Regions from separate parts of the Homo sapiens genome. Here region 1 is linked to region 2. The links come from fine-mapping of genetic effects on gene expression. Tissue or cell type: thyroid. Region 2 holds a variant in brackets; the other region holds the start of a gene. All regions are shown on one strand. Distances are from middle to middle.

Region 1 (2,651 bases), 46 kb after region 2:
ATACACACTTTGTTATTAGTGATCTAGTAATGTTCATAAATCCAGTTGTATTTAGATCTTCATGACCATTGACTATCAGTTCCCATTTCAGGTCTGCACATTGCAGTGGTTCTGTGCCCTGGGTCCATTCAGTGATTTCCCTGTGTTCCATCTTCTGTTGAATCCACAACTGTTGTTCTGTGTATAATTTCTCTTCCTTGCTGTGTATGATTACATTCTATTATTTGTAACAATAACAGACCAAAAACAATAGAAGCAGCCATGTCTGGAGGTGACTGGAAGGTGGAGAAGCCATAGATTTTCAAGCCCTGTGCCATAAATTATGTGAGATTGGCCCTTTCCTTAATAGTGCTGAACAACTTTCACTTGTGAGGTGATGCAGAGGGGAGAACTCTAATTTTTATTTCTTCTTTTGAGCGTCTCCGGTCCTCTTATCCTTATAAACAAATAACGGACTTCTATTTAATGTGAAGCCTGTTGCTTTCTGAACAGAGTCAAGGTGGCGTATCTTCAGAGTAACTAATGTCTGGGGTTTGTTTTGTTTTTCTAAAATTGTTCTTGAGCCAGCTGTGGTGTAAGTGGTAATGAACCCCAATGGGTATCAGAAGATCTCTGCTCAAATCCCGGTTTTACCGGCAATGAGCTGTGTGGCACTGACAGGTGTCCTGTTCTCCCAGAGTTTCTTTCCCAATTTGAAAAATAAAAAATGATAATCTTTATACTCCAGTCTCTTTTAATGATGAATATACATTTATATATATACTTTTATATATTTAATATAATATTTAATAGTATAAATATGTATTTATGTTATTATTATGTAATAATGTATGTAACACTCCCTGCTAATTCAGTTTGTCTCTTTGACATGTAAAGTAAATAATCACCTATTATTATAATAATGTAATAATAACACAAATATTATTATGTAATAACATATATATTTATGTATATTGTTTATATACATTTAAATATATATAAATATACATTTATTAGCTAATAATTTGATATATGTATGGTAATTCAACATGTATGAGTTATATTCACTATTTCATGTTTAGGCAGCTGTATTTTAAGTGAACTATACTAAATATTTGAAAGGCTTTTGTTATCAAGGGCTAAGTCTCCTATTTTTTGATATAGCATTACAATGTACATTTTTTATACACAAAATATAGAATACACTGATTTCCCTCAAGGTCATAAATTCCCAACTGGTCATTAATCTGAGAATATTGAATTTTGAGTATATTCTAACATAGAATCATTTACTTCAGTGTTTCTCCATCATCACAGCACATTGGAACAACCAGGGACTTTTAATTAAAAATACCTGGGCTCCAATCCAATACAATTAAACCAGAATCTCCTAGATTGGCACTGGAAAGAAGGAGTAGGACAAAAGAACATTTTATTTCTATCCATGGGCCAAAGTCCACTCAGAAAAAAAGTATAAATTGGATCTAGGTGATTGTTTACTTTACATGTCAAAGAGACACACACTAAATTAGCAGGGAGTGTTATAAAAACTTTGGAGTGCAAGCTCACAGCTGTCTTAATAAGAAGAGAAGGCTTCAATGGAACCTTTTGTGGTCCTGGTGCTGTGTCTCTCTTTTATGCTTCTCTTTTCACTCTGGAGACAGAGCTGTAGGAGAAGGAAGCTCCCTCCTGGCCCCACTCCTCTTCCTATTATTGGAAATATGCTACAGATAGATGTTAAGGACATCTGCAAATCTTTCACCAATGTAAGTCTGCCTTATGTTCCTCCAGCCAATTGCAAAGGGTAAGTTATTTGACTGCTATTTTTAGACAAAATATATTCCTGGAAGCACACTATTATAATAGATCATTGTAAAGCAAAATACTCCCTCTGAACTTCTTTGATGTTTCTTTTGTCTTCCTATTTTTTTTTTTTTTGAGACGGAGTCTCGCTCTATTGCCCAGGCTGGAGTGCAGTGGCACTATCTCCACTCACTGCAAGCTCTGCCTCCCAGGTTCACACCATTCTCCTGCCTCAGCCTCCCCCGAGTAACTGGGACTACAGGTGCCCTCCACCATGCCCGGCTAATTTTTTGTATGTTTTAGTAGAGACAGGGTTTCACCGTGTTAGCCAGAATGGTCTCAGTCTCCTGACCTCATGATCTGCCTGCCTTGGCCTCCCAAAGTGCTGGGATTACATGTGTGAGCCACCGTACCTGGCCTCTTTTGTCTTTCTAAGTCTGTCATTGTCAGAAATAGCGGAGTGAGTTGATGCATTTTGTGAATACAGAAACATTGGGGTCATTGTATTATATAATCATTTAATACAGTGGCAAAAGTTTAAAGTGCTGTTTCTCCTCTTTGTTTCACAGTGTTTTGCTATGATTTTTGACTGAAGGTGAAGGGAAGTGTGTGTGATTAGAAATTTCATCCAATAAGTTCTCTACTATAGTAGTCATGTGTTTTATTCAGAATGGTCATGAAAATTGAACTTCTCTGAAGATTCATTTGATGGCTGATGTGAAATAAATATCTGTGGGTTCAGGGCAAACATAAGTGCATGAAAGAAAGAAGTAATCAGTCAGGGCCCAATAGGTAGTTAACAGAATTCTTTTGGATTCTGAAGAAAGCCACTGTCTGTGGCCAAGGTTGCTGGAGAATGGAAGAAATTG
Region 2 (2,861 bases):
CTGAATAATTTGCTTAGAGAGAAGTTTTTGAGGTGCAAAGGTTATGGGTACTAGCCTCTGCTCTACAACTTGCAGACACCATGTTCTTGGCGCAGATGATAAGTCCCTGAGTCTTGATATCCTCATCTTTAAAATGGGGATGATTTTACCATAGGTGAAGATAATTGAGAGAATCAAAAGTGATATAATGGGAGTGAACATTCTCTGTGAATTATCAGAGTCCCTGAAAACCTGAGGGTTAAACATTGTGTAAGTGGAGTCTTGACAAAAACTCAATTTTTCCTTATAAAACAGCTTAGAATAATTATGCTGACCAATTTAAAATAAATATGATAAAAAATTAAAATAAATATGTTAATATCTCTACAGTACATACCTTTGCACAAGCATTGCATTAGTTATCTAGCAATGTATATCATCCTAATGATACATAGGTCCTTATGCTCACTGAATTCCATCTCCCATTCAGGTTTGTATATTGTGGTCCTTATGTGCTATAAGTTTGTTTAATAAAGTCTCCTCTAAGAATAGACCACATGTTATGTACCAAAACAAGTCTTAAAATGTTCAAAAAATTGAAAAAATAAGCATCTTCTCTGACCACAACGGAATAAAACTAGAAATTAATAACGAGGAATTTAGAAAACTATACAAATACATGTAAATTAGACAATATGCTCCCGAATGACCAGTGGGTCAATGAGCAAATTAAGGAGGAAATTCAAAAATTTTTTGAAGGAAATGTTATTGGAAACACATTATACCAAAACCTATGGGTTACAGCGAAAGCAGTACTAAGAGGGAAGTTTGTAGCTATTAAGTGCCTACATCAGAAAAGAGAAAAAACTTCAAATAAACAATCTAACAATACATCTTAAAGAACTAAAAAAGAGAAAACCAAACCCAAAATTAATAGAAGAAAAGAAATGGTAATATCAAGGCAGAAATAAATAAAGCTAAAATTACAAAATTACAAAAAAATCAATGAAACAAAAAGTTGTTTTTTTTGAAAACTTAAACAAAATTGACAAACCTTTACCCAGACTAACAAAAAAAAGAGATAAGATCCAAATAGACAAAGTCCGAAATGAAAAAGGAAACATTACAACTGATACTTCAGAAATTCAAGAGATCATTAGTGACTACTATGAGCAACTACATGCCAATAAATTTAAAAATCTAAAAGAAATGGAAAAATTCCTAGATACAAACAGCCTACCAAGATGGAATTAGGAAGAAATCCAAAACCTGAACAGACCAGCAACAGGTAATAACATCAATGTCAGGATAAAAAGTTTTCCCATAAAGAAAAGCCCAGGACCTGATGTCTTCACTGCTGAATATTACCAAACATTTAAAGATGAAGTAATACCAGTCCTACTCAAGCTATTACAAAAAATAGAGGAAGAGGGAATACTTTCAAAGTCATTCCAGGAAGCCAGTATTATCCTGATACCAGAACCAACCAAAGATTCATATGAAAACAACTACAGAGCAATATCACTGTTAAACATTGATGCAAAAATCTTCAACAAAATACTAGCAAACTGAATTCAACAGTACATTACAAATGTCCAT[C/G]ATGACCAAGTGGGATTTATTCCTGAGAGGCAAAAATGGTTCAACATATGCAAATCAATCAGTGTAATACATTGTTTCAACAGAATGAAGAATAAAAACAATATGATCATTTAATTGATGCTGAAAAGCATTTGATAAAATTTAACATCCCTTCATGATAAAGACTCTCAAAAAATTGGGAATAGAAGAAACATACCTCAACATAATAAAAAGCACATATGACAGACCCACAACTAGTACATACTGAATGGGAAAAGACAGAAAGCTTTTGTTCTAAGATCTGGAACAAGATGAGGATGCCCATTTTCACCATAGTTATTCAACATATTACTGGAAGTCTGAGCTAGAGCAATCAGACAAAAGAAAAATATCAAAGGCATCCAAGTTGGAAAAAAAGTCAAATTATTCTTGTTTGCAGATGATACATCTTATATTGGGAAAAACCTAAAGACTCCACAAGAAAACTATTAGAAGTGATAAACAAATTTAGTAAAGTTGCAGGATACAAAGTCAAGATATAAAACTTAGTAACATTTCTTTATGCTAACAGTAAACAATGTGAAAAAGAAAAAATAGTAATCTCATTTATGATAGCCACACAGAAAATTAAGTAGCTAGGAATTAACAAAAGAAGTAAAAGATCTCTATACTAAAAACTATAAGACGTTGATGAAGGAAATTGAAGAGGACACAAAAAAGTGAAAAAAATTTCATGTTCATTGATTGGGAGAACCCATTTTGTAAAAATATATATTGTTAAAATATACTGCCCAAAGCATGCAGTTCCTTGCATTGCTACAGATTCAATGCAATTCCTATAACAATACCAATGACAGTCTTCACAGAAATAGAAAAAAAATTCTAAAATTTATATAGAACCATAAAAGACCCAGAATAGCCAAAGCTATTCTAAGCAAAATAACATTACTTGATTTCAAATTATACTGCAGAGCTATAGTAACCCAAACAGCATGGCACTGGTATAAAAACAGACACATAGATCAATGGAGCAGAATAGAGAACCCAGAAATAAATCCACTCTCCTACAGCAAACTCCTTTTTGATAAAGGTGCCAAGAACATACCTGGGGTGAAAGACAGTCTCTACAATAAGTGGTGCTGAGAAAACTGGATAGCCATATGCAAAAGAATGAAACTAGACCCCTATCTCTTGCCATATACAAAAATCAAATCAAAATAGATTAAAGACTTAAATTTAAGACCTCAAATTATGAAACTACTACAAGAAAGCGTTTAAGACAATCTCCATGACATTTATCTGGG

Direction of the effects. Alleles are on the strand shown, and positions count from the first base shown. SD is a standard deviation of normalised expression in the study named.
For the expression in thyroid of the gene that starts at base 1,483 in region 1, allele G in region 2 goes with a lower level than allele C (moderate effect, 0.52 SD a copy in GTEx).

Evidence for each region. PIP is the estimated chance that this variant, and not a neighbour inherited with it, causes the effect. A credible set is the group of variants that fine-mapping cannot tell apart.
Region 1: it holds the start of CYP2C8, and the variant in region 2 is the best candidate, but not a certain one, in a credible set for the expression of CYP2C8 in thyroid (GTEx, PIP 0.72).

The regions. Positions count from the first base shown.
Region 1 is chr10:95,068,329-95,070,979 of GRCh38, reverse strand. It overlaps CYP2C8 (cytochrome P450 family 2 subfamily C member 8), which reads left to right and starts at 1,483. Exons shown (of 9, transcript NM_000770.3): 1 at 1,483-1,745. The coding sequence starts at 1,578. RefSeq lists a promoter at 1-1,578.
Region 2 is chr10:95,114,170-95,117,030 of GRCh38, reverse strand. All of the region lies in intron 8 of LOC107984257 (a long non-coding RNA gene), which reads left to right. Among named protein-coding and RNA genes, the nearest start is that of CYP2C8, 46 kb to the right of the region's middle. The variant C/G (reference allele first, on the strand shown) is at 1,579.